Linked DNA regions of Homo sapiens. The protein of the gene in region 2 interacts with the protein of the main gene of each other region in a pairwise test. Each region holds a gene or a part of one and is shown on either strand. Other genes may lie near its edges. The genes, in order: DAZAP1, PRMT2 and SHTN1.

Region 1 (3,652 bases), on a different chromosome or scaffold from region 2:
CCCTCACAGTCTGAGCTGCCCTTTCTGCCCCGTTTCCATCTTTCCCCGCCCCCAGTTTTGCTTGTCCTGTTTCTGCCTGGTCCCAGCTACAGCAGCCCTGGCCCCTGTCTCTTCAGCTTGAGAGGCCCCACAGTAGGCTGCTCCTTCCGGGGGCCGTTGCCTGTTCCCACCCCCCACGGCCCTTCTCTGCCGCGCTCGTTCACGCCTCACGCCCGTGCTGCGCTGTCCCCTGCTGTGTGGTGCCTTGTCACGCACCCTGTGCCTCTGGCGCGGGCAGCCCATCTTCAGCCCGGTCTCAGCTCTTCCCATGTCCATCTTTGTTCTGTGAGGTCTTGGGCAGCTGTCTGCCGGGCACTTCCATCTGGGGAGGGGCTGGTGCCGCCTGGGCCCCGCCTCGGGAGGACGGTGTGCTTTGCGGTGTCACGCTCCACCTAGCCGGGGAGGCCTGGAGAGCCCGGCGCACTCCTGCGCCTAGAGGAGGAGACCCGCCCCGTTAGCCGGGGGCCGCGCCCACCCCAGACCCACTAAACTTCGTTTATACTGCCACTCTTGTGTTTGGGAAATGCTAAATTTTTTTTGCCTTTAAAATTTTCTGTTTTGATCCCATGGTGCATCTCGCTCTTGCTGCTGGCAGCAGAGTCTGACCTGCTGGAACCCGTTGTGGCCTGTATCTTTGTGCATTGTTTCTCTACCTGTATAGAACATGCATAGATGTCTACGATATGACCTCTTCTAGGACTCCTTGGGCTTACCCAACGGTGTTGCGTAAGCCTAGCGAGGCACCAGCTATGATAGATACTGTATCTGTTAACGCTTTAGAACGATATATGGCTGCTGTCAGCACTAGCTGCAAAGCAAATTGCAAGCCAAGGGGGAGAATCCTGGGTTTCAGAGAAGCATACACACATCCACGGTGCACACCCCTGACTAAGATGGCGCATTCCACGCGGGCCCCCGGCCTGCAGGGTTCACTGGCAATCTCCCCACAGGCGAGAGCCAGAATATTCAAGCACGGGCCTCTGACCCTCCCCTGGGGGGCGCTTTGTCTGCCAGTAGCGATGGAGGCCCTCACCGTTCCCCTGTCTCCGCTGCTGTTTTATAAGATGTGCTCCTTGTTCCAAATCTTTGTGACACGGAGCCCCAGCCCGGGGTGTCTGGGGCGGAGGCTTGACTCAGGCCTCAGTCAGCAGAGCCGTCACCGGGAGTGCGGACGTCACCGTCTGTCCACTCCGTGTGCAGTCGAGTGGTGGCTCCTGGGGAGGGAGGCAGCTGCCCCAGGGGCCCGCAGCGCCCCACACACAGCTTAGCTGAAACCCAAGGTCGATCCCTCGGCCCGTCCCTAATACTGTTCATCATCCTGTTTTGTGTCACAACACCCTGCTACCTTGATTCACTCTTCGTCGTTGGCTAGGTTTTGGATTTATTACTTTCGAGGACGAACAATCAGTGGACCAGGCTGTCAACATGCATTTTCACGACATCATGGGCAAAAAAGTGTGTAGTTGTAGTTTTATTTTACCTTAAGACCAAACCAAGTCTTAGGCAACTTAGGGGTTTCACTGGAAAGGAACATTCCTTCACGGAAAGGGTCGGGCGAGTTCGTCCTGTGAACCTTTGCTGCGTGAGGTGGGCCTGGGTCTGTAGACGTGAGGAGGGTCCCATCCTTCCCCAGCACCCTTCCTGCGGGGTGGGGATCTCTCAGCTTTGCTCCTGGAGCCCCTCCCTCTGGGTGACCTGGGACTGGGCGGGTAGGGGGCTGGGGCTGGGAGGCTGTGGCGGTGTTGGGGCTGGCTCCAGTGAAACCGCAGCGTTGCCTCAGGCTTGGTTTCCACGACCACTCCTTCAGATGTCTGCAAATCCCCATTGTCTGACACTGACCTGTAATGTGATCAGCAAGGGACCTTTGAGAGCCGAGGTTCCGCTTAAAATGGAAAGCACAGTGGAAACATCATGAAGGACTGGTTGTTTGAATTGGGTCACTTACTGTGGAACTCCGGCACCAGCCACATGCTCTCGGTAGTACTCAGCCACCATGCAGTCAAGTGACCTCTGGTTGTGTCATCTTCATACTGTGTTACCCCCGGAGGTGAGAGGGACAGGAGGCCACCCCCCCAACCCCCAGGCCAGCCCTTGGAAGGCATGTGTCAGAAAGGGGTCCCTAAATCCTTGTTTTACCTGGACCCTTGGAGGTTCTTGAGAAGTGGACTCTGAAATAAATAACTGGTAGAAATTCTACAGTGTGGAATTTCTTGCAGTTAGCAAAAGCTTAGGGGTCCAGGTTTTTGCAGGATTCCTGTCTTGGTCCTTTCAAACCAAGGAGCTCTGCTGGCTCTGCCAGGCCGCCTCACATGCCCAGTGGGATTCTGACCCGGCCTCCTTGGTGCGGCAGCTTCTCCCGTTAACGGAAGAAGACGCTTAGCCCCTCTGACAGGGCCATGGTTGTTTTTTCAATTAAAATGTCCTGGAGGGAGCATCGTGCTCATTATCTCCTGCCCCTGCCCTCTACCCCAGCCAGAGGTCTTGATAGCAGAACTTTTTTAAAAACAGTAGCATGTGTAGTTATTTTTGTATACACGTGGCTTAGATTGGGTTGCAGACTTCATTAATTCCATTTGAACCCAACTAAAACAGGAGACACAATCCTTGTTCTGACATCGAGTGCAGCTTGTGGTTTAAAATGAGCCTGCCGGCTGCATGGGTGCGCGACAGTACAAGCAGGGCTTCAAGGAGTCTGCGCCCAGTGTTTTAAGGGACTACGACACTGACAATTTGGGGAAAGCGTGGTCTTGATATACGGGGCAGAAAGAGCTCTGTACAGTGCACACACCTGCTGCCGTCCCTGGGCAGCCCCTGGGTCCCCCCAGCCATGACTGTTCTGCGCGAGCTCCTGAGCTGGGCGACCTCAGTGTGGGTCTCGCCTTCCAAGCCAGACAGTCGTTGGAGTCCAGCTTGCCCGGCGCCGGCCTTCACTGGTTGGCTGGAGCGGCACTTGGCGTCGCCGCCGGCCCCTCATGGGGGTTTTCCGTTTGTGGAGTGTTTGGTACCGCGTGGTAGTTAACCCTCCATGCCAGGCGACTGCATTGCTGCATTCAGGTAGGAAAGGGTGAAAGAATTTTTTTTTGTTTTTGTTTTTTTAAAGTACAAGGACCGCTCTGCTTTGTAAGCAGGAACCGCAGTCCCCTGAGGAGGGTGTGTGAAGACTCGCTCATTTGAGTTCTTTGAAATGGGTCCCTTGGTCCTGCTGTCACATTGCCTTGAGCTAACGGATCCTGTTCCCATCATAGGCCGGTCCTTGGGGCATTGGGCAGGTGGGGGCTTTGTGCCTCTGTGGCTGCTGCTGTCTGTTCTCTAACAGGCAGAACTGAGGGATTCTGAACTCAGGATGTGCAGCTCTCCAGACTGAGACCCCAAGGCTGACTCCAGGTGGATCCATTGTCTCTTTATTCTCATTACGATTTATCAGAAAAGTGAGACAAATTCAGGATTCTCAAATGCTGAGGCAGCCCCGGAATTGGGGGGATCTTTCTGTTGTTAGTCCACCCATATTTTCAAGCAGGCATTAAAGGAAGGTCAGCCACTGCGCCTAGAATAAGTAGGTCAGGCCTGCTCCATCCATTGTCCCCGGCCCCGCACCCTCCTCCTGAGAAGACTG
Region 2 (3,652 bases):
GTCCAGGGAACACCTTTCTGGAGAGCACTGGGTGGTAAAACCAAAAGCCACATAGTCTCAGTCCATCAGGTTCACATTCAGAGACTTACCCTAAGAAGATTAAGGTACATACAGAATGATTTATGTTGAAAGAAGTTCATCTTAACATGATTTAGAATAGTAAAAACTGAAAAGTCTAAATGTACAAGACTAGGAAACTGGATAGGTAAGTCCTGATAATTCATAGACTGGATATTAAATAGTGTTAGAAGTATATTTAATAAGAAAAATGTTCAGAGTTTATAAAGTGAAAACCATAGGCCACAGGCTTATTGTGTGAACCCAGTGAATGCTTTGTACTTATGTTACGTGTCCACTTTTTTAAAAGTCTGAAAGTATAAACACCAATGTGCTGTCTGTTATTATCTGTGATCAGTGAGCAAAATTACAGGAGGTTTTAATTTTCTTCTGTGTACTTGGTGTTTTCACACATTTTCTAAAGTAAACACGAATTACTTTTATGTTTAGGAAAATGTGTTTAAAATGTATGTATTGAGACAAGGTTGATTCATTGAACTGGAGTGTGTGATCTGAGGTTCTGCCCCCTGCAGTGATGTCTTCCAGGCAAGCTTATTCTTATATAAAGTGAACGGCCAGGCATGGTGGCTCATGCCTGTAGTCCTAGCACTTTGGGAGGATGAGGCAGGTGGATTGCCTGAGCTGAGGATTTCGAGGCCAACCTGGGCAACATGGTGAAACCCCATCTCTACTAAAAATACAAAAAATTAGCTGGGTGTAGTGGTGCACACCTGTTGTCCCAGCTACTTGGGAGGCTGAGGCATCAGAATCACTTGAACCTGGGAGGCGGCAGAGGTTGCCCTGAGCCGAGATCATGCCATTGCCCTCCAGCCTGGGCAACAGAGCAAGACTCTGTCTCAAAAAAAAAAAAAAAAAAAAAATGGAGGGGTTGGGGGAGGCTCCAAGGACCTGTGTGGGTCCAAGCTGGGCTCTGCTGCCTCGTGGAGGTTTGTGCCATGCCATCAGCTCTTTCCACAGGCCCCTGGCTGTGCCTGCCTGGGGCGCTGGGCCCCTGGCTCTGTCCTCACACTGGTTTCTCTTCATGGGGTTGATGATCACCTTCAGGAAGCAAAGCTGATGAAGGACAAGGGCTCCTCACCAAATAGACACTAGTGGTGCCTGTTTCTGACTTCTTGCTTTGATGTTCTCTTTTAGGGTCCAGATAATTTTTTTTTTTAGAAAAGAAATGTAGAGTGAAGGTGACAGCCTTTGATTATAGTAGTAAAGATGATCCAAATAGTTTGTATAATAAATACTTGGACACATGAATCTGTATTTGAAATTTGAAACCATCCTAATAATATAGCCAAAAAAAAAAAAAAAAAGCTCCAGCGTCCTCTCCTCACGCTTTCCTTGGCTTTGAGCAGGGAGAAGAGCCTGCTGAGTGCAGTGAGGCCGGTCTCCTGCAGGAGGGAGTACAGCCAGAGGAGTTTGTGGCCATCGCGGACTACGCTGCCACCGATGAGACCCAGGTAGCCACACGTGGTGGTTAATGCTTTATGGCTTTCAGCATGTTCAGTGTCAAAAGGAGATAAATTTTGCAGACGTCACACCAAAGTTAAATGAAGAGGTATTCAGATGCGTAGGGCCACACAAGACCTGTGTGTGAAGCTCACAGCCCAGCCAGTTCTGCCTCAAGCATGATGTAAAGATACGAGGCATGGAGTGGGGACCCTCAGCCAGGGGCAGAAGCACCTGTTCTGGTTTCTACTTGGAATGTAGAACCCACCCAGTTAATGAAAAGTAAGGCTACCAAATATATCAAGCTATATCTGCTTGGACATAGCTTTGTTTACTTTGTGACAGGAATTTCTTAGAGTCAGCCTCCAGTAACTCAGTTGGCATAGTTGAGTTACAATGAAGAGGCTGTTGAGAAATTCTCTCCTAAGCCATTTGAAAATGTTTACTCCTTCTTTTAAAAAATATCTGTTAAGCTGTGCCCTCCTTTCAGGTAGATGTTCCAGAGGCATCGCTAAGTCATGGTGTCACTTGCAAACATTCTCAGTTGCTGTCATTACCCACTGACTCCTGTTTGAAATCTCTGTGATTTTGTCACCATTGATGGGATTTATCACTGAGCCACATTTGAAATACCAATGACTGGTTTTCTTATTGAATTTTAACTTTTTTTTTTCCAGCTCAGTTTTTTGAGAGGAGAAAAAATTCTTATCCTGAGACAAACCACTGCAGATTGGTGGTGGGGTGAGCGTGCGGGCTGCTGTGGGTACATTCCGGCAAACCATGTGGGGAAGCACGTGGATGAGTACGACCCCGAGGACACGTGGCAGGATGAAGAGTACTTCGGCAGCTATGGAACTCTGGTATTGCTTTCTAAATTCCCTGTTCAGCTGGCCAGGCGGTGGGTTCTCTCTAGCTTTAGTTCTACTGCAACGTTCAGAGCAGGCCCATAGTCTTACAGGCCAGAGCTCCTCTGTTGTAGCCACTCAGCTCTGACATGGTTGTGTGGAAGCCACTGTGGATGACACACAAAGTGTGCACTGTTGTGTTCCAATAAAACTTTATTTATGGATCTTGAAATTTGAATTTATACTGTACAGTTTTCATGTGTCACAAAGTATTTTCTTTTGATTTAAAAAAATCATTTAAAAATGTAAAACCCACTGTTAGTTTGGAGGCCATCCAAAAACAGGTGGTGGGCTAGATTTGGCCCATGGCTTAGTTTGCCGACCCCTGGCTTAGAGATATGATTTGAGCAATGAGATTATGTGCGTGCTCCCTCAGTATTTAAAAAAAAAGCAGTAAATTTTACTTTAAAAATGAAATTAGGCTGAGTGTGGTGGCTGACACCTGTAATCCCTACACTTTGGGAGGCCAAGGCAAGAGGACACTTGGCTTGAGACCAAGTGTTCAAGACCAGCCTGACAACATAGTGAGAAAAAATAAAAAATATAATTCGTCTCTACAAAAAAAAAATTAAAAAAAAATATAATTAGCTGGGCATGGTGGTGCACGCCTGTAGTCCCAGCTACTCGAGAGGCTGAAGTGGGAGGATTGCTCAAGCCTTGGAGGCCAAGGCTGCAGTGAGCCATGATGGCGCTGTTGCACTTCAGCCTGGGCTACAGAGCGAGAGCCTGTCTCAAAAAAAAAAAAAATAGAAAAAATTCTATAAATCTATGAATAATACTACTTAGGTCAGGTGTGGTGGCTCATGCCTGTAATCACAGGACTTTGGGAAGCTGAGGTCAGAGCATCACTTGAAGCCAGGAGTTCAAGTCTGTGGTGAGCTATGATTGCGCTACTGCACTCCAGCCTGGGTGATTGAACCAGACTCTGTCCCTAAAAAAATAATAAAAGCCCAGCTTCTAAATAGCTTACCGAAATTTTTTCCCCACCATGGAGAAATGCCTATAACCCGATGGTCCAGGCAACAATCTCTGGTTACATTTTAAAACTAGATGAAAACAGTTACTTGCAGGATGAATGTTATAAAAATGATGTTAGTTGAAAGAAGGAATAGGGCAAAGAATCTATAACGTTTGACTCAATTATATAAAGTTAAGAGGCCATATTAGAAGGTTTTTTGTTTGTTTTTGTTTTTTTTTTTTTGAGACGTAGTCTTGCTCTGTCACCCAGA
Region 3 (3,652 bases), on a different chromosome or scaffold from region 2:
CCAGTCCAAGACCTGGGGGTTGGGGAACCCTGCTCTAGAGTATCAGTTATTTACTCGCATGATCATGTGACTGATTGGGAGCTGTGGCTGGCTGCCGCTGCAGAGGATTGTTGAGAGAGTATCTTATTACATATTGCGAGCCTGGGAAAAGATCAAAATCCAGAATTTGAAGTATGGTTTGTATTGAATGCATGTCGCTTTCACACCATTGTAAAGTCGAAAAACTATCTCAAACCATCCTAAATTGGGGACCATCTGTATGTCGCTTAAAATGTTTCTTAGCTGTCTGTAAGTTCCCTTGCAGATGCAGCAGTCTTTTAAGCACAGCATATGGTTTTTGCAATTATAAAAATAGCATATGCTCCTTATAATACATTTTTAAAATACAGCAAAAGTTAAAGAAGATTAACCAAGTATCCCATATTTTGGTGCATAGCTGAACTTTCTGTAAATATATACCTTTATAAATATAGTTTGTTTAAATTGAATCATACTATGCATACTATTTTATGCCTTGATTTTTTTTCCATTGGTAATATATCTTCTCATGTCAGTATATAGTAAGCTATGTGATTTAAAAGTTGCATAGTATTTCATTGAATAAACATGCTATAATTTATTAAACTAAAAATATTGGTGGACATTTAGGTTATTTGCAACTTTTTGCTGTTGTAAAGAATACTTCAGGCCAGGTGTGGTGGCTCACGCCTGTAATCTCAGCACCTTGGGAGGCCAAAGCAGGTGGATCACTTAAGGCCAGGAGTTCGAAACCAGCCTGGCCAATGTGGTGAAACCCTGTCTCTACTAAAAATACAAAAATTAGCCGGGTGTGGTGACATGTGCCTGTAGCCCCAGCTACTCAGGAGGCTGAAGCACAAGAATTGTTTGAACCCAGGAGGCGAAGTTTGCAGTGAGCCCAGATCGCGCCACTGCACTCCAGCCTGGCCGAAAGAGTGAGACTCTATCTCAGAACAAAAACAAAAACAAAAACGAAACAAAACAAAAAACCACTTCAGTGAATATATTTCAGAGTATTTTAAAAAATAATTTCTAAAAATGGTTTTACTGAATCGAAAGCCTTTCCTTTTTTTTTTTTTTTGAAGACTTTTGATACTTATTACTAAATTTGTGTCCCCCAGGAGTCTTTTAAAATATTACCTGAATTTTTCTTTTGAAAATGGGTACAAAAGTGACCCATGTTTAAAAATTAAAGTGTCTGTGTGACTAACAAGCATATAAAAAATGCTTAACATCACTAATCATTAGAGAAATGAAAATCAAAACCACAATGAGATACCATCTCATGTCAGTCAGAATAGCTGTTACTAAAAAGTCAAAAAATAGCAGATGTTGGCAAGGTTTCAGAGAAATGGGACGCTTAAACACTGCTGGTGGGAATGTAAGTTAGTTCAGCCATTATGGAAGGCAGTGTGGCGATTTCTCAAAGAACTTAACACAGAAATACCATTCAACCCAACAGTCCCATTATTGGATATATGCCCAAAGGAATATAAATCATTCTACCATAAAGACACGTGCACACATATTCATCGCAGCACTATATGCAACAGCAAAGTCATGGAGTCAACCTCAATGCCCATCCGTGGTAGACTGGATAAAGAAAATCTGGTACATATTACACCATGGAATACGGTGTAGCCATAAAAAGGAATGAGATAATGTCCTTTGTAGCAACATGAATGGAACTGGAGGCCATAATCCTAAGTGAACTAACATGGGAATAGAAAACCAAATGTTCTCACTTCTAAGTGGGAGCTAAGCATTGATTACACACGGACACAAAGAAGGGAACAACAGACACTGGGGCTTACTTGATGATGGAGGGTGGGAGGAGAGAGAGGATCGAAAAAGTATCTATCAGGTACTATTCTTTTTACCTTGGTGATGAAACAACCTGTACACCAAGCCCCTGTGACACACAATTTACCTATATAACAACCATGCACATGTACCCCGAACCTAAAATAAAACTTAAAAAAAATTAAAGTGTCTGGTACGTAACTCCCCAGTAAATTTATTTTAAATCAGCTCTTTAGCTGATTTATGATTGTGTGTTAATTGTATCTAGCATTTGCATGGTTGTTAAGATGGATTGGAATCTGTTTGCTATGAAGTACAGTCAAAGGGAAATATTTATTTTTTCCCTTTCTTTTCTTTGACAAAGGAAAAACTGTCAGCCATAAAAGTCTTTTTTTTTTAAATAACTTATAGGTCAAAGAATTAGAAGAGCAACTAGAAAATGAAACACTCCACAAAGAAATACACAACCTCAAACAGCAACTGGAGCTTCTAGAGGAAGATAAAAAGGAATTGGAATTGAAATATCAGAATTCTGAAGAGAAAGCCAGAAATTTAAAGCACTCTGGTAAAAGCATTGAGTAGGCTACTATGTCTTACTATTAATCTTTGAATTACTCATGCCTAGTACAAAACCTGGCATATAGTTAGTCTAGAACATTTACTGAATGCTGTGGAAAAATACCAAGATTTGTTTTGAAATTCCTTAATTTCTAACCATTGCAATTCAGTAGAATAGCTGCTGTATTAAATAATTCAAAAATATTTAGACTAATTTTTTGGACTTAGAGCCCTTGTGAACATCATATACAGAATTTAGACACAGAGATACCGTTAGCCTAGGAAGACCAACTTTTCAGCATTTTTCAGAGCTTCAGAGATGAATGTTCATTATGTACTTTATTTTGTTCACTTAGAGTGCATTTTTAGAAAGAATTAAACTTTTTAAAAATACTGTCTTCATCTTTGGTGTTCATACTACCTTCATCTTTGGTGTCTAATAATACACATGAAATAATACTTTCTATATTGTACCTAACAATGAACTGGGCAACAATATATCTATTAAATGGAAAATCTTTAGAAACACCAGGGGATACTTAAATCAAAAGATTTATTCATTCAGTTCTAGAAGGCTTAACGGGAATGTGCGAGTTAGATTACTATACGGGCATATGTGTAAGTCTCTGTTGGAAGGTCGGTAATTTAAGAAGTCAGGTACATTCCCTTTATAATAGCTTCAATATTCACTTCAGATATTTTTGGTTAATTTTATACTAGAATTTTGAAACCTATGCAGAAGAACCATGTAGGCCTTTTTTCCTTCTAAAAGCATTCAGTGCTTTCTAATCCACAATGAAAATTGATTATAATTTATTTTTTAATTGATCCAAAATTAAGAAGTATTTCATTCTTTTTAGTGAATATCAGAGTAGCCTGTAGCCAAAGCCATCTTTATTATGAATAGAGGAGGCAGACACTGGAAATATATAAGGTTCAAATCTGAATGCCTTCTATTAATACTTATTATCTGCTGTGTGTGTACCCAGCCCTATCCTAGGAAACAATAAGAAATACAGAAGAAAAGAAACCATGCTTTTTGTCTTCAGAGAACTCAGATTCCCCTTGGAGGGATAGGTGCATGCACATAAAAAGACTAGAGGATTCTCAGTTTTGGAGAGCATAGCCCACACTGCCTATTTAAGTGTTGAGGGTAAATACAAATGGACAGATCCCTGAGGGTACACTCAGTCGGGGAAAGTGGAATGGCTGTGGATGGGGAGAGCTACCTCTGAGTGCCAACAGTATGCAGCACCTTTTACCCATTATCTCA

The links.
Region 1: the proteins of PRMT2 (region 2) and DAZAP1 interact in a two-hybrid assay, tested with the Homo sapiens proteins (one large-scale study listed by BioGRID and IntAct).
Region 3: the proteins of PRMT2 (region 2) and SHTN1 interact in a two-hybrid assay, tested with the Homo sapiens proteins (one large-scale study listed by BioGRID and IntAct).

The regions. Positions count from the first base shown.
Region 1 is NC_000019.10:1,424,467-1,428,118, forward strand, and holds part of DAZAP1 (DAZ-associated protein 1), read left to right. Parts: intron 1-1,411; coding exon 1,412-1,494; coding exon of another isoform or gene 1,495-1,495; intron 1,496-3,652. UniProt on the Homo sapiens protein: RNA-binding protein, which may be required during spermatogenesis.
Region 2 is NC_000021.9:46,642,111-46,645,762, forward strand, and holds part of PRMT2 (protein arginine N-methyltransferase 2), read left to right. Parts: intron 1-1,424; coding exon 1,425-1,529; intron 1,530-2,195; coding exon 2,196-2,378; intron 2,379-3,652. UniProt on the Homo sapiens protein: Arginine methyltransferase that methylates the guanidino nitrogens of arginyl residues in proteins such as STAT3, FBL, histone H4. Acts as a coactivator (with NCOA2) of the androgen receptor (AR)-mediated transactivation.
Region 3 is NC_000010.11:116,928,583-116,932,234, reverse strand, and holds part of SHTN1 (shootin-1), read left to right. Parts: intron 1-2,232; coding exon 2,233-2,386; intron 2,387-3,652. UniProt on the Homo sapiens protein: Involved in the generation of internal asymmetric signals required for neuronal polarization and neurite outgrowth.